Linked DNA regions of Homo sapiens. The protein of the gene in region 2 interacts with the protein of the main gene of each other region in a biochemical or structural test. Each region holds a gene or a part of one and is shown on either strand. Other genes may lie near its edges.

What was found.
Region 1: the proteins of MSN (region 2) and ICAM3 form a complex in vitro, tested with the Homo sapiens proteins (2 studies listed by BioGRID).
Region 3: the proteins of MSN (region 2) and SELL form a complex in vitro, tested with the Homo sapiens proteins (one study listed by BioGRID).

What each region holds. Positions count from the first base shown.
Region 1 is NC_000019.10:10,333,276-10,336,624, forward strand, and holds the end of ICAM3 (intercellular adhesion molecule 3 isoform 1 precursor), read right to left. Parts: intron 2,702-3,349; coding exon 2,396-2,701; exon of another isoform or gene 2,079-2,395; coding exon 1,791-2,078; intron 1,546-1,790; exon of another isoform or gene 1,508-1,545; coding exon 1,253-1,507; intron 1,134-1,252; coding exon 885-1,133; intron 785-884; coding exon 582-784; 3' UTR 501-581; downstream 1-500. Other genes in the region: RAVER1 (ribonucleoprotein PTB-binding 1), read right to left, coding at 14-232. UniProt on the Homo sapiens protein: ICAM proteins are ligands for the leukocyte adhesion protein LFA-1 (integrin alpha-L/beta-2). ICAM3 is also a ligand for integrin alpha-D/beta-2. In association with integrin alpha-L/beta-2, contributes to apoptotic neutrophil phagocytosis by macrophages.
Region 2 is NC_000023.11:65,663,810-65,670,804, reverse strand, and holds the start of MSN (moesin), read right to left. Parts: upstream 3,152-6,995; 5' UTR 2,964-3,151; coding exon 2,952-2,963; intron 1-2,951. UniProt on the Homo sapiens protein: Ezrin-radixin-moesin (ERM) family protein that connects the actin cytoskeleton to the plasma membrane and thereby regulates the structure and function of specific domains of the cell cortex.
Region 3 is NC_000001.11:169,701,621-169,708,620, forward strand, and holds part of SELL (L-selectin precursor), read right to left. Parts: coding exon 6,797-7,000; intron 5,830-6,796; coding exon 5,722-5,829; intron 3,134-5,721; coding exon 2,948-3,133; intron 1,821-2,947; coding exon 1,635-1,820; intron 69-1,634; coding exon 1-68. UniProt on the Homo sapiens protein: Calcium-dependent lectin that mediates cell adhesion by binding to glycoproteins on neighboring cells. Mediates the adherence of lymphocytes to endothelial cells of high endothelial venules in peripheral lymph nodes.

The DNA of each region.
Region 1 (3,349 bases), on a different chromosome or scaffold from region 2:
CCCCCCCCAATACCTGGTTGGTCACGTCCCCCGGGAGGCCCCGGATCAGTATCTTGCGGCGGTTACGGAACTGGCGCTCGGTGTGTTCCAGGCGTTTCCGGATCTCTTCTGGATCTAGAGGCGGCAGCTCTTCTTCCGGCGCCCGGCGCTCCGCGGCATCGCCGGCTTCGACTTCGGCCCCAGACTTAGGGCTCAGCGGGGGCCGGTGAGTAACGGACACGTCCGCCGCCATCTTGGGAAACCCGGCGCCTTCTGGGACCAGCGAGCCGGGGCGGAGCGGCATAGAGCGGCAACGAGGGCGCGCCCGTCGATTGGCTGGGAGAAACCCCACCTCCTTCCCGCCCCCCTTGCCCCGTTGGCTAAGCCCCAGCCCACCTCTCAAGAGTTCAAGCTGCGTCTGCGCGCCACAGGCCCCGCCCCCTTCCGTCGCAGCGACGCTACTCAGTGGATGTGCACCTGGGTGGGAGAGACTTGCAGCGCGGGTGGAATCAAACCACAGATTAGGGAGTTTGAAGGCTTTATTGGTGCGGAATCTGAGGGCACAGCCAAGCCCCCGCCAACTTTGATCCCGGATCCCAGCGTCACTCAGCTCTGGACGGTTCTTCCCCCATTGCTTCTGTCGGCTGCATAGACGTGAGGGGCAGATAGGTGCTCTCCTCCCTAACATGGTAACTGCCGCTCCGTTGGTGCTCCCTGAAGACGTACATTAAGGCCAGTACGATAGTCACCACGCCCAGGGTCAGTAACACCGCCACGAAGACGGGGACAAAGTGGGAGCTCCCAGCTGTGCAGAGAAAGCGCTAAGTCAATATGCGTCCCTTCTGTCTCCAACCCCCCCGCCCCCCGGCTTACCGGTCCAGACCCGCAGCCCCGTGTTAGCTCACCCTCAATGTCCATCACCACGACCAGGGTGTATTTGCCTCGTGAGCTGGACGCTTGGCACTGATAAGTACCATTATGTGTTACGTTGACGAAGAACGGGATCCCCACCGGCACCTCCCGGCTGGAGCCTTCCTTCAAACACCGCAGCTCGGGGTACGGGTTGCCCCTGGCTTGGCACTGCAGGACGTGTCTCGTTTTATCTTTCCATTTCAAGTGCTGGGGGCATGTGGCTCGGTCAATTTTGGGACCATCTGTGGAACCACCATGTGTGATCAGACACCCAACACACCCGAGGCACAGTGGTGCAGAGGAGCGTCTAATCTTTCCAGGGCAGGGGTGGAGGGATTAAAGGTCAGGGTGACCGACTCACACAGGACTCGCAGCTGGACGCTACTGTTCCTGTGCAAGAACTCGCCGTCCACCTCGAGAGTGGCACTGCAGAAGAAGCTGCGTCCGTCGTCACTCTCGGTAGCATTTAGCTGAAGTTGAGCTGGCTGCCCCGGGGCCGCGGCCGGAACTCCGTCCAGCGTGACCTGGACTCGAGCCCCAGCCATGCAACTCACGGTCACTGTGGACCCCTCATGGGCGGTGGGCTCGCTGAGGTTCACAATGGGTCCTAGGAAGCCTAAAGGCGGGGCATTGCCCAGGAGCTTAATGAACAGGACCTTCCTGTGGGTCAAGCCGCTCCCTCCGCCCTCCCCTTTCCTCTCGGGATATCCGGGCCACGCTTTCGGCCGTTCAAGCCTCGCCCTCTTTCCGCGCTGTGTCCAGCTTCGGGCACTCAGGCCCAACCCACGTTGCAACTGCTATTGGGGCAAGCCAGGCCCCACCTTTTCGGCTAGTCTCCGCCCCCTCTGCCACGCCCCCAGACTGCTGAGGCCGCGCCCCCTTCCCACGCCTCCTCTTACTAAAGACCGTCAAGTTCTCCCGGGCCTCCCGTCTCTCGCCCCCTAGGGTCACGTTGCAGACGATCTCCCGGGCACCCTCCTGATCCGCGCGCGCCGTGGCTGTGGCTGTGGCCGTTAGCGTGTCCCCGTGGTTCATGACTGTCGCATTCAGCATCTGGTCCCCCAGCGCCAGGTAGACCTGGGCCTCTGAGGCTGGAAAAAGCCCGTCTAGGGTGCAGTCCACCGGCCACGACGTTTCCACCTCCAAGAACCGGGGGGCCACGAGGCGCGGGGGGGTCACGGGCAGGACTGGGGAGAAAGGTGGGCATAGTACAACCCCCAGGACTGTGCCTTCCCCAGGACACCCTCATCCCCCCCAGTCAGGATATCTTGCTGACTGGGTCACCCTTCTTCACAGGACACACACACAGGGCCATGAAAACGGCCTTCTTCAAAGATCCCACGGCTCGGGCCTCCCTTCCGGGGCCACCTTGCCCAGTGGCCGGGGGCTTTCCTTCCCAGAAGCCTGTGAGGTCCGGGGTACCCCACTCTCAGGAACCCCAAGGTCAGGGCACCGTCTACCCTGGCTCAGCTCGTCACCCACCGTCTGAAGCCCCTTCTCTCACCAAAGGTTCGGAGCTGGCGGGGGGCTGAGGTGTTCACGAACAGTCCCAGCCCCTGGGGCTGCATGTCCAGTTCTGTGCGGCATGAGAAAGGGGCTCCGTGGTCGTCTCTGCTGGCCAGCACAGTGGCAGTGACCTCCGCTGGCTCCTCCACTGCGGGCTGCCGGCTCAGCTCCTCCTCCCAGCGAAGCAGCACCACCGTGAGGCTGGTCCGGGGCGACCCATCCTCCACTTGGCAGCGCAGGGTGAAGTTCTGGCCCACCGGCTGCCAAGGAGGCAGGGGTGCCAGCTCCACACGCTCCGGGAGCCCTGAGAGAGGAGGGGAGGATGGCACTTAGCGGGTCCTGCAAACCCACCCACTCACCCCAGGGACTGGGGAGGAGACAGGGTGGTCCTGCCGAGAACTGTGAGCTTTGAGTTAATAAACTTAGAGGGCTTAGAGCTGGGCCAGTCGAAGCGTTTGCTATTATCATTAGCGCAGTGATTATCATTTCCTGTGTTGTCAGATACCTTGCAAGGCGCTAAACAAAACTTTCTGTTCTCAAAGATGGCACAATAAAAAAAAATGAGGATGGAAGGGATGAACGTTTATGACTATGATATGAATATTAAAAATTCCTGTTTATGGCCAGACGTGGTGGCTCACGCCTGTAATCCCAGAGCTTTGGGAGGCCGGGGTGGGTGGATCAAAAGGTCAGGATTATTCAGTTCTCTCCAATCAGGTTCAGACACTCAGGGCTTTCCTGGTTCACCAGCCCTGTGGCAGCCTCTCAAGATACTCCGGCACAGTCACAGGAGACTTGACACTCCCAGGCTGGGTGCCCTCCCCAGTACACCTACAAAACGCTGGGCCTCAGGCCGGGCACTGTGGCTCATGCCTGTAATCCCAGCACTTTGGGAGGCCAAGGTGGACGGATCACCTGAGACCAGGAGTTCAAGACCAGCCTTGCCAACATG
Region 2 (6,995 bases):
AGAGTCCAAGGAATGGCAAGAAGGCAAGGGTGGCGGTGGGTAGTGAGGCATGTTTTTTTGTTTTTTTGCTTTTTTTGTTTTTGAGATGGAGTCTCACTCTGTCACCCAGGCTGGAGTGCAGTGGCGTGATCTCGGCTCACTGCAACCTCCGCCTCCCAGGTTCAAGCGATTCTCCTGCCTCAGCTTCCCGAGTAGCTGGGATTACAGGCGCACACCACCACGCCCAGCTAATTTTTGTAATTTTAGTAGAGACAGGGTTTCACCATGTTGGTCAGGCTGGTCTCGAACTCCTGACTTCATGATCTGCCTGCCTCGGCCTCCCAAAGTGCTGGGATTACTGGCTGGAGCCACCACGCCCGGCTGGCGTGTTTTAACAAATGTAGGGGAGGTTGGGCTGACTAGGAGGGACAATTAGCTATAAAAGTGAAACCGACCCTAGATAGGTTGTAGACATGCTGCAATATGAATGAACGAGTTTGATTTTCCACTACCTTTCTCCATCTGTCACACGCTAGAAATAGCCTAAAGCACATAAATGAAAATGGAGCAGAGAAAGGGAAATTTTTTCCCCTTTTAATTAAAATTACTGGTTGGTATTCAGTGAACTAGGGTGTGCCCCTGAACACCTTGGCCTTGGTATGAGGAATAAGAAAAGTAACAGAAGGCACCTGGTGACACTACCGAACCTTACCAGGAGACCACACAAATGTCAACCTTGGCCACTTTGCTCAAATTACTCATTTCCTTTTATCTGAGGACCATAAAGGTCTGAGAACAGTGGGCAATTTGTTTGGAGCAAGAAAGGGAACTCAAATGTCAAGAACTCAATCATTGGGTCAGAATAAAGGGTCAATGAGATGAGCATCAGAAAGCCTGGACCCCAATCTTGGCTCAGTCACCATGTGCCCTTAGGTAGGTCTTTCCCTGTAGGTCTCAATAGCCTCATTAGATTTTTGTTTTAGTTTTAGTTTTTTTTTTTAAGAGAGTTGTACTAAATAGTCTCCAAGGTCCCTTTCAGGTTAAGATTCTATGATCTTAACAGACATAATATAGTTGCTTTTCCTAAAAGTTGACCATTCCTTGAGTCAAAGTATAGAAAATTCTCTAATACTTCCAGTCTATCAAAATTCAGCCCTCTCCTTCCAATTTGATTCAGGTTTCAGTCAATCTGCATAAAAATGCCTTCAGTATTTAGGTACCCTCATTACTCCAGGCCTGACTACAAACAGCTTATACTCCATTCTCTCTCCATTCCCAGGAAAACAATAAACACGCTGTCTTGTCTTCTTTGCCACTTTGACTCAGATGAGACGGTTAATGCAAGTTTGAAGCAACTTCCAGGCCCATGAAGCTGTGTTTCAAAGTGGGCTATCTCAGAACTGAGGATGAGATATGCCACTACAGAAGAAAGACCGTGGAGCAATGTCTATTCCCAGAGATCCACCCAACTGTTCAGGCAAAGCCGCACCTTAAGAGGAGTCAGGAGTCAACCACAGAGAGAGACCCAAAGAGCCGCTCCTGACAGGATCTTTATAATCTTGTTTTGGCAGACAATGGGATATTTTCCCCTCTCTCCAAAACCATTACTCTCTCTCTTTGGGGGCGGGGACTAGGGAACAAAGTGTGTAAAAGCCTCATGTCCTAAAACCACAAGCAATTTAAAGGAGATAGACAGTGAAAGCACATACTTTTTGAAAACTTGGTGTTTCTGAAGGACAAGGTTCTGGAAAGGCAAGAACGACTTGGCAGTGAGGCTGGTATACAGTAACGTGGCAACCAAAGCTCATCACAAACCCAAAAGGCTGGGCCCCCAACTCTCCTCCTCTCATCCCAGGGGACCTTCAGCCCTTTTCAAGGCTACTAGTCACTATCTCACCTCTACAAGGCTCAAGCAGTCCTGGGGAGACATGTTTGGGAGCACTGCATTGCCTAGGCCAGCTCAACAAGCTGTTTGGCCTAAGGGACTCAAGCCAGGGTGGTCACCAGGCCTTTCTGAGCAAGGGAAGGGCCTCAGCAGCCATTTGGCATGACTTGCACAAAAGCAAGCAGAGCTCATTAGTCAGGCACACCCCTCCTCCCCTCTCCCTCCTGGGCATCCGGCCCCCCTATCCCCACTCCCAGGAGGCTTCTGTTCCTCTCGTAACAGCCAGTGGGGTGGAGACGCATCCCCAAATCAACCACCACTCTAGAAAGGTGTGGCCCCACGAGAAAACCCACACCACACAAAATAGTCCGGAGGGGATAGGAGGAGATAGAGAGGCATTAAGCAATAGGAGGGGCAGGGATTTGGAGGTGGAGAGGAGGGAGAAACCGGTCCTCTCTCCCAGGAGATGGGGTAGGCCTCTCCTCAGACTGGTGCCTAAATAAGTGTTGGTGCTCTCGGGTGCAGCCTCGATGACGATTTCCTCACATCTCTCTCCTCACCTCCTAGTGGAAAACAGCTGGAGCCACCCGGTGAGGCTGTGGGAAAGATGAGTGGGGGTGCCGGATCCGCCCCGAGCGGCTCCCTCCTTTCTCCCTGCTTCTCTGTTCCCATGTCCCCTCTTGGACATTGGCAGCCTTGCCCCAGAAAGGTGCCAATTCCTGGGTTGGGGAAAGTGTTGTCTTCTGGACCAGAATCCTCTCCTCTGTGCCCATGGCCCATCAGGGAAAAGGGGAAACCCCAGGCCCCAACGAAGCCGTCCTGACTGTTGCATCTCAGACACAGGGAACTGGAACCTGAGAAAGAGGCAGGCCTCGCCCCGTCCAAACTTCCAGCCTGGACACCCCCTCAACCCCTGAGGGCGCACCAGACCAGGATCCCACTCCGGTCCCCTCCCTACCCTTGGCTATGGCGGAGGGCGCGGCGTCCCAGGCGGGCCGGTGGCTGGCCAAGCCCTCAGCCATCAGCAAAGGGCTATGAGGCTCAGCCAGAGCCATTGGGGTCGACAGCGCCCACCTCCGGCACTCACCGTTTTGGGCATGGTGGCGGCAAAGGCAGCGGAGTTGGCGAAGTTTAGCTAGGACTGTCGGGCAGTGCTGAGCACGCAGTACACACGGCTTGGATTCGGCTGGCCGGGGACTCAGATTGGGTCCCTCACTAGCGTCGGGGCGACTGTTAGGCTTCCTGCTAACGGGCCACGACTTCACAAACCCCACCCAGGAAAGAGCCGCCCCTGTCGCGCCGCCCGCTCCTTTATGTGGCCCGGCTTCCGCGCCGCTCCCCGCCCTCGCGCCCGCCTCCCCGCCGACCGCTGGCCTTGCCCCGCCCAGCCCCGCCTGGCCAGGCCCGGCGCAGCCAGGCCACAGCGGCCACGTGGGGGGCCCGGCTGGGCCCGGGCGGACCTAGGGTAGCTACCACTCCCCACCCAGACCCACCCGGCTCCTCTCCCACCCTGGTCACAGCCCCTAGCCTTCCACGTCCTGGCCTTCCAGCCCCACCCCCACTCAGGGCCCAGACCCTGGGCCCTGACAGATGCTTACTCAGCCCCTGACTGCAACTTTCCACTGATGGGGAGCTCACTACCTATCTTTTCCTTCTCTAGACAGCTCTGGCTCTTAGAAAGTTCTTGCCGTGTCTGAACTCCTTTTCTCTATGGCTTCCATCCATGGATCTCAGTTCTGCTCCCTGAGGCCACACAGATCCCCTGTTGTCCCTAACAGCTCCTCAAAGGCCTGAAGATCTCAGGTCCACAGGAAACTTCTCTTCTTTTGGCTAAACTGCCTCACCTCTTAAAACACTTCATCCATTCTCTTCCGTAGGACTCTCCCCATCATATTTCCTACCCATCCTTGCTCAGTCCTCATTTATCTTTCCTTCATCTAAATCCCAGTCTTCACCTTCCTCAAATCAGTGACCTGATCCTTTAGCCCCTCTCCCAGTACATTCACTTTCTGATGTCCTGATGGGGCTGGCTATAATTCCCTCAGGTTAGATGTGACCTCCCTAGTCCACACCCTTGGGGTTTGTCTGCCAGCTCCCTTTCTCCTTCTTGTCAAGGTCACAGAATCCCAGGATGGCAGTGTTCTAGACTGTTGAAGTCGTCTGGTCAAGTCTGAGTTTTAGGCTGAGTGCGGTGGCTCATGACTGTAATCTTAACACTTTGAGAGGCTGATGCAGGAGGATTGCTTGAGCCCAGGAATTCGAGACCAGCCTGGGGAGCATATCAAGACCCCCTCCCATATCTATACAAAAAAAATAAGTGAGAGCCGGGCATAGTGGCTCACTCCTGTAATCCCAGCACTTTGGGAGGCTGAGGCGGGCTGATCACCTGAGGTCAGGAGTTCAAGACCAGCCTGGCCAACATGGTGAAACCCCGTCTCTACTAAAATTACAAAAATTAGCCGGGCACGTGCCTGTAATCCGAGCTACTCGGGAGGCTGAGGAGGGAGAATCGCTTGAACCCGGGAGGCGGAGGTTACAGTGAGTCAAGACTGAGCCAGTGCACTCCAGCCAGGGCAACAGAGTGAAACTCTGTCTCAAAAATAATAATAATAATAGTAAGTGAGACCATGTGCAGTGGCTTACACCTGTAATCCTACCACTTTGGGAGGCCAAGACCTGCAGATCACTTGAGGTCAAGAGTTTGAGACCAGCCTGCTCAACATGGCGAAACCTCATCTCTATTAAAAATGCGAAAAAAAAAAACAAAAAAATTAGCCGGGTGTGATGGCACGTAGTTCCAGGCACTCGGGAGGATGAGGCAGGAGAATCGCTTCCGGGAGGCGGAGGCTGCACTGAGCCCAGATTGGGCCACTGCACTCCAGCCTGGGCAATAGCACAAGACTCCGTCTCCAAAAAAAGTAAAATAAAATAAGTCCGAGTTTTAGTTTGAAAGTGGCTGGCCATAGTCCTTTTTTCCTCCTCTCCACTGGCAACCATGTGAAGGCATGGTCTGAGTATCCTTTGTGAGGTAAGGCACCACAGATGGTAAGCCAGTTTGAGACAATGGAAAGGATACTTGAGAGGTCAGGACACCTGGCTTCTACGTATAGCTCTGCCATTAACTCATCCTATGACCACTATGTGGCCTTGGGTAATTCCCTCCCCCTCTCTGGGCTTGAGTTTCCATTTCTGTAGCAAGAAAGGACTGGACTCCGGGGCTTCCAAGGTCCTTTCCCACTCTGACATTATAAAGGGATGAGAAAGGAAGTATACTCCCTAGGACAATAGATGAGCCTAACAGGATTGCATATGGGCTGGTCTTGCATTTGCACTCAGGAACCAGTAGTCTGATTCCATCCTCTTCCTTTGCCTTCCCAGACCAACAGTGTCCACGATTCAGTGTGCCTCGGTTTCTCTCACTGCTAACAAGATTCATTGATGTGTGCTAGGGTAAACAAAGTTCCCTGCCAAGATCATTTCCTTGAGCTAAGCATTTGTTCAAAGAGCAGCACTCATCGGAAAGCCCAAACAGTCTCCATGAGCAGTTGTCCCCAAGGAAGAGCAGCACTCACCAGAAAGCCTCAGCAGCAGGAGTAGCAATGACAGCTCATCACACGCCTTAATACTGCCATTGGCCCTTTTCCACCAGATGTTCAAGGAACTCAACTGATTTCTTCACTCATGTTCACCTAGAACCTACAGGGACCTGGCATGAAGCTAAATGCCTAAAGACAAAGAATTTACTTGGCGACTCCAACTTTCTGGAAAGTGGAAACTCCCTTGTGTCATTCCCCACCTCCCATGCCAACCACTCCCCACAACACACATACACAGGGGAGAGTTGGGTAGAGAGTGTCAAGTAGCTGAAGACACTACTAAAAGGGAAACAAGGACCAGGTGTGGTGGCTCACACCTGTAATCCCAGCACTTTGGGAGGCTGAGGCAGGCAGATCACTCGAGGTCAGGAGTTCAAGACCAGCCTGGCCAACATGGGAAAACCCCATCTCTACTAAAAATACAAAAATTAGCTGGGTGTGGTGGCATGTGCCTGTAATCCCAGCTACTCGAGAGGCTGAGGCAGGAGAATTACTTGAACCCAGAAGGCAGAGGCTGCAGTGAGCAAAGATCATACCACTGCACTCCAGCCAGGGTGACAGAGCAAAACACTGTCTTAAAAAAAAAAAAAAAGAAAGGGGGCATAGAAGTCCAAGCAGGGGCAGGGGGTGTCAGAGGCTCGGGGAGCTAAGAAATAGGGGGAAAGGGGCTGAGGGAGAAAGATGAGGTTGGACCTCTGGGGAGGAGAGGATGGGAAATAGAGAGAGAGCATAAACTATCAGAGACTAGTTAGTCCAGTCTCACTCCAGGTCAGGAGAACTGGGGATCAGAAAGAGGAAAAGACTTACCCAAGGCCAGATAGCTAATGTACAGAAGACAAAGAGCTCAGTTAAGAAGCTCTGGCAATAGTACAAGCAAGAAATTTTTTAAATATTATTTTCTCATGTTTTATTTTAGATACAGGGGGTACATGTGCATGTTTGTTACATAGATATATTGCACTCAGGTAGTGAGCATAGTACTCATTAGGAAGCTTTTCAACCCATGTCCTCTTCCCTCCCACCTCTAGTAGTTTTCAGTGTCTGTTGTGCCCATGTTTATGTCTGTAGGTGCTCAATGTTAAGCTCCCACTTATAAGTGAGAACATGCGGTATTTGGCTTTCTGTTCCTTCACTAATTCACTTAGGATTATGGCCTCCTGTTCCATCCATGTTGCTACTAAGGACATAATTTTATTCTTTTCTATGGCTGCATAGTATTCCACGGTGTATATGTACCACATTTTCTTTATCCAGTCGACTATTTCTTTCTTTTTTTTTTTTTTTTGAGATGGAGTCTCACTCTGTCACCCAGGCTGGAGTGCAGTGGCGTGATCTCGGCTCACTTCAAGCTCCGCCTCCCGGGTTCATGCCATTCTCTTGCCTCAGCCTCCCAAGTAGCTGGGACTATAGGCACCCGCCACCATGCCCGGCTAATTTTTTTTGTATTTTTAGTAGAGACGGGGTTTCACCATGCTAGCCAGGATGGTCTCGATCTCCTGACCTTGTGATCAGCCCACCTCGGCCTCCCAAAGTGC
Region 3 (7,000 bases), on a different chromosome or scaffold from region 2:
GACTGCCACTGGAATGAAGAGGGGGTTATAATCACCCTCCTTAATCATTGAGAAACTTTTGTCCAATTCTGAAAGAGAAATCAGTAAGGCACATAGCATGAGACCACCAGCATTATTTCCTTAGTCTATCTCATGATATTTGACTTTTTTCCTCCTTACATCTCCCAGTAGTAGCCCATTTGATGCCATTTGACAGATGAGGAAACTGGCATGGGAAGGCCCCTGATGAGTCTACAGCATAGGCAAAGACTGGACCAGCCTTGCTAGTCTAATGCCTACAGAATCTCAATGCCCAGATTTGTGGTTCATAGAGTTCCTGAAAATGCACCTAAAAATGTTGGCAAGAATGGTCATCGTTGTATTTAGCTCCATGGACTTGTTCAATGACTGGAACTCTGAAACACAGAGAAGAGCTAAAAGCCTAATACAACTTCAGGAAAAATAAAAGCCAATGATCTGAACTGGATAATTCACCAGTCAAAGGAAATCATTAATGCTTTTACTTTAAAGCAGTTGTGCAAAAATAAGCACTTGATTTTTACATGCCAAGGACCTGCACTAATTTCTTTCCAATGCAGTAGTTACCACTTCCCTCTACTTCCTTCACGAATAAGTAAAAGGGCATGTTTAGAGATACTCTTGTAAGTGTAAACTAAGTTCATTTGGGAGCCTCTATTTGAAAATACTGGTATAAAAAAAAATCTGTCTCCTGATACTAACATTTGAAGGAATCTACTTTTTTACATATTGGCAGAGGGTCTGATTCTATCCTTAGTTCTTCCCATTACTTTGATGAACCTTTTCAAGGTGATTTGATCCCCACACCCAAATATATGATTGAGAGAAGGCTCAAGTTCCCAGGAGCTCCAGACAGAAGGTACCTGTTGGCTTGATGAAGATGAGGAGGAAATGAACACTAGCTAGGCCTTAAAGGGAAATGTCTCTGATAGGCCTAATACACAGTCCTCTGCTAAAGGCCTCCCTGCCTCTCTCTGCTCATCCACTCTACTCCCTGGCCCTGGGCACGCAGCACACAGAGATCAGCATTTCTGACAGCTTCTGTAGATCCTACCATTTAAAGACTTTTGTCATCCATGCAGATAGTCTCAGGAGCAGACACAGGTAGCTATTCTTTCACATGCTAGCTTAACATGCATTTGCTTTAGCACCTATTGCCAGGCACTGTGTCAGGTGGAGGGTATACAAAGATGAACAAGACATGATTCTTCTCATATACAGATAGATTTTGGAGGCATTAGCTTAGTGATGATTCAGGAGTATCCATTATTTGGGGAAGTAGGTGGTCATTAGTGACCTTTTACAGGCATTTCAATGGGCTAACAGAGATGTTAGATTGTAGTGGAATAGAAGAATGGGTAAAAAGTAAATCAGTGAGTTCAGATTTTAGGAGTTAAGATGGCAAGAGGTGAGAACAAAAAAAGGAAATGATTGTCATTAAAGGAGGAGGAAAGACCAGCCAAAGATTTTACAGTGAGTTAAGCATACAAATTTATTTCTAGGCCACATATTCTTAGCAAAACAACATGTAAATGTTTATGTATGTCTTTCCTCATATCTGCTCATCCATCAGCTCCATCGTTAAGATTTCAGTTTTCCAGGACAAACTTACTCACTTTGACATATTGGACTAGGATTTGACCAGATTCCAGATGATTCACAAATGGTTTTCTTCTTCCCAATTAACTCAGTTCCTTCTGAGCAGATGAAGGTACATGCAGAGGTAAAGCTGAAGCTGGCCAGGGGATGGCTACAGTTCATGATCCCCAAATCTGGTGCTGATAGAGGCTCACACTGAATCACTTCAATGAAAAAGAAAAAAAAAAAAAAGACAAAACAGTATTTCTGAGTAGAGACCCTCCCTTGAGCAAAGGATTTTTAGCCAAAGCTGCCTGACTACATTACTTGTGATATTGCTTCCAGGCTTTATTTTCTTGAGAATGATGGTGGGTGGTGAATGAGAGATGAAGGCAAGGAAGCATTGAAAGCTGTGGGGAGAGGAGTAGCTACTCCAGGCTGCTGCCCTAGCTAAGGTGACCCTCCCCTTCTGCTGGAAGTACCATGCCATATGGCCTCTGCATCAAGGGCTCTTATGGGATATTCTCAGAGAATCTCTGCCGTTTCATCTGTTCTGATATCTACCCAAGCATTTTGAAAAACATCCCAATTCACTGAAGCAAGTCCAACTTCCGTAAATTCCAGTAGGTGGGTTGACAGTTTTATAATTTCAATAAGGGATTTTGATAGCACTTCTAAGAATTAAACTACTTAAACTAATGCATCAGGAGCATACTTGTAGAAAAGTTAACCAAAACTTCGTAAGTTCAGATGACATTGGTTTTCTCCCATATGGAGATAAGGTTGGCAGTTAAAAATGAAAAAAAAAAAAAAACCTACCTTATTTCAAACTTGAAAAGATCAAGAGATTGTGTTTTTGTTTTTCAGTTGTTATTCTCCTAAAAGTTTATGCATGAGGAAAAGTAAAAGTGATTTTAAGAATAAGCCAAATAAAACAACCAAGAAAGACCTCCACTACCCTGGGAAGGAAACTGGTTGGTATTAAGTAGGACACCACATAAAACAGGTGTTATTGAGAGGAGAAGAACCAAAATGTAACTGAGGTTCAACAAGACATTATTTATGCAATGGCAATGAGAAAAATAAAAAACACAGTATAACCATGCTGTATTGCTATAAGTCATGTTACACACTGGGAGATGGCTTCAGGGGTATTTGGTTTTTACTTTTTGTTTGGGAGGTTTTTCAAAAAAATTTAGTTAGAATAAGTCCTTTGAGAAACATCACAGTAGGTTAAACAAAGTTAGGTTAAATTAGGCTCCTAAGTTTGACTTCTCAGCAAACTTCTACTGAATGTTCTGACTGTAAGCCCAGGATTGCATGACAAAACCTCTAGTCTGAAGTTACTCACCTTGACAGGTTGGTTCTGGAGATGACCAGTTTCCAAATGGTCCACAGGTGGTTTCTTCAATCCCAGTTAAGTTTGTTCCTTCAGAGCAGCTGAAGGCACACTGTGAGCTGAAGCTGAAGTTTCCCAAAGGGTGAGTACAGTCCATGGTACCCAGCTCTGGGGCCTCCAAAGGCTCACACTGAATCACTTCAATAGGGAAAGAAACAGTATGGGGAAGAGTTAAGAGGAACTGACGCCTGGATTTGAATCCTAGCCCTGCCACTTGATAACCATGTGCCTTTAAACAAGGTTACTTGAACCCTCCAACTTCAGTTTCTTCATCTATATAAGAGGAATAATGAAATTGTGTTATCTTTATCAAATTGATATGGAAACTAAATGTAATTCAATTAGCATAAGTCAAGGACCTTAGAACAAAGCCTGACTCATCAGAAATTCTAAGTAAACATTAGCTAGTCTTCATATTATTATCTTCAGCATTATCTGTAGTGAGAATCCTTAAAGCCAAATAGGTGTAACTGGGAATGACCAGCTTAGTCGGGAAATAACTATCACATCAGAGCCCCTGAGTCTACTAGAGTATTGGGAGCAAGATGTTCAGAGAAAGAGTGGGTCTCCATAATAAGCCTTCTTTGCAAGGAGAGAATATAAAAGTCTAGGAAGCATTTTGACCTCAATTCTGTCTTCTATTCTAGCTCAGTTCCAGAATTTTAACTCTTTTGATTTTGACAACCCTCTCCAGAAACTGTATCTATTTCCCTGTTCTGATTGGTGGTACAATAGGTAAATTTAAGACTTGGAAATCAAAGTTTTCACATTTTAGACCCTGCCATGCCATTTAGTAAACAGTACAACTTTCATGTCTTATTCCTCATCTGTCAAATTTAAGCCATTATTGCTACCTTGCTCTAGAGACTTCAAGGAAGAATGGACTCAAGGAATCAGAAGAATTTTTGTATTTGGAAACTATATGAGATGAGATTAGGGAGAAACATGGGAACTAAGAGAAAATGTTATCTTTTTTCATTGATTTAAAGAGTATCTATTATATATCAAGCATTACTCTGGGGCTTGAAGAGCTTAGATTTCACCCTGTAGGACAAAATGGTAGGTAGAAATTAATGGGTGGATTGTCATGTATGTGTGATGTGTTTTAATTGCTTTTAATTGATCAGTCTCCCTGTAGTATGAATAATGTATTTGAGGGGAGCTAATTTAAAATTGTGGAACTCATCTAATAAACTATTGCAAGAATCTAGAAGAAAGATAATGACGGCAATGGTAGTAGAGTTGACAAGTGGAAGACAAATTAGAAAAACACTAAGTTGTAAAAATTGGTAGAATGTTACCCTGCATAAATGTTGGGGGAGTTAAGAGAGTCTCATACCAGGGTGCCCATGTAAATGGTGATTCCACATACTGAGATAAGAAATACGAAGAGAAAAGCTGACTGGGAACAATTGGTTTTATAGTCTTTTAAACATCCCAAAGGACATCCTTAGCATATTTGAGTTCAGAGCTGGAGATAGGCTTATCAGTCCAAAGATCACATAGATTTGTGAGTCCGCAAAAGTCAGTAAGTTTGACCAAAGGATACATGTAGATTAGAGTCAGAAGAGCAATATACAAAAGACAAAAGCTGAGAAATTATAGTAGTTTATGGTCCTGGATAAGTGCTCATGAAGGATCTCAGGAGAAATGATCACAGGTAGAAAGAATGAGAAAAGAGTGATATGAGAGAAACCAAGACAAAGAAAAGTAAAATGTTAAAAATGAGTGAAATAGGCATACCAATAATTAAAAATGAGTAAAATAGGCATACCAATAACATAAGGGTTAAAAAATAGAGTTCAAAAATGGGGTGAGGGTAAAGTATTAGGAAGGAGTCATGGCCCAGGGATCAAGTGAAATGAGTTAGATCTATAGATCTATTTCAGTTGGTTGACATTTAAATGTATTTTGGTTTTAATTCTTTATTGTTTACAAACATTGCTTTTTTAAAAAATTAAATTGTCCAATTCAATTCAGGCTCACAAGCAAGTGCCTCATATATACAGGCATTTTGTGGATCCCAAAGATGCAATGATAAATAGGACACTTACTGATCTCAAGAAGTTTTCAGTACCAGAGGAGACGGACAAGTGAACAGATGACTTCAACATAAGTGGGAGAAATGAGGAAGAAATATGTGGAGCTATCAGAACTAAGAAAGCTTCCTAGAAGAAACTGTCTTTGAACAATGTCTTAAAGATGACATGTTTTTTGGCCATGTGCAAAATGAGAGAGAAGGCCACCAGCAAAGTCAGTGTGCTACAGAGCACATGTGTTAAGTGTGGAGAACTGCAAGAAGGAAAGGAACTACTAGAAGGAAAAAGCAAGATACTTTCTGGGTAACTCAGCCTCCTAATGATAAATGGCATAGTTTCTTCCAGACCTTAGAGTTCTAATTAATCTAACAAGCTCATTAGATCGTGAGCTTCTTGAGAGCGGGAATCTACCATGCTAATTCCTTATGGTAACCCTGACAGCTTTTATCCCAACACTGTGCTTCTTGTGGTACTCAAAAAGACTTGTTGAGAAGTGAGTCGAAACTTCATGCTGACTTATGAAATCTTTACGGAAAGGTAACAATATTGTGAAAGCAGAGCTTTCTGATCAAAACTTCCCATTTCTCAGAGTGGCTAGTATCATTTTGTTCCAACCAGCTTCATGATAAGCTATAATGATTCCTGTGACTTTACCTAAGAAGAAGCAAAGAAAGGAAAGAGACTTACCAAACTGACACTGGGGCCCATAGTACCCCACATCACAGTTGCAGGTGTAATTATTGATGATTTCTACACATTCTCCATGGCCACTGCATGACCAGGGCTGGCAAGAAGCTTTAAGGAGGTCAGAAAAAAAATATTTTAATGTGATTACATTTTAGTACTCAAAGTCATTTCTTTAGACATAGATAACCTTTTGTCTGAGATGATTTAAATAATCAGGAAAGGTTTATTTGTAAATTCATAGCATAAAAATCATATGCTAAAATTTTTACGTATAAAATACACTAAGCATATAGTCATAGGCATTTATTTGCTTTTGGAATGAAATTACCAATACTAATATTCTGTAACACTTATAGGAAACTTAGTGGCATACCTTGAAACTCTTGAAATTACTTGTTTTTAATGAGTGAGAAGGTTAAATGATGACCTGACCTCAATCATTTCTGCATGCAATTATTTCTTGGCAATCCCTTTCTTTATAGAAATCAAAGATTAAAAAGTCCAAATTTGCTAAAACGGTAGAGTCCAATTTATAAGAGACCAAATTAACTATGGTTCATTATTAAAACATCACTTGGAAAATGCTGGCTGTTTTGGAATTGTAGAAGATTTTACAGAAATATTCATACACCAAAGATAGTGCAATTTTTATATAAAATTATATAAGGTTAGACCAAGAAGGAAGCACGCAGCACCACACTCTCTACTTCACAATGTGAAAACTGAGGTGATGTGAGCCTAAGTTTCCAACTGGCCCCAGCTGTCAGCTTCTCCTCCCCTGCCTTATTATCAAAGGCACTGATTGTCTAGCTCTTCCTCTGTACTTCCTACGTAGATCTATCATTTTGATGTAACTTGATTTAGGGGTATAGCTTTTGTGCACAGGGACAAATCTTACACACCAAAAATTCTTAGGAGTGACACGATGCAAGATTATATAGAGGGCTAGATGTATTTTAGAATGAACCAGAAGCTGTTCTCATCCCCCCACCTTTCCATGGGGTAAATCTGAGTATTCTCTTAACCGTGGCCCTTCCTGAGTCTGAGGCAGCATAGCCGTCTTGTCACTCCCTACCTGTGTAACAGAGGGCTGCCTTTAGTTTGTGGCAGGCGTCATCGTTCCATTTGCCTGCATCTTTGTTTCTCTTGATATAGATCTCCACGCAGTCCTCCTTGTTCTTCTTGTTGTTGGGCTCACCATCTCCCCAGTTCTCTGCTTCTTCAGTAAGAGATTTGTTGGTTCCCACCCACGTCCATATTCCTCCTATCTTCCGGATTC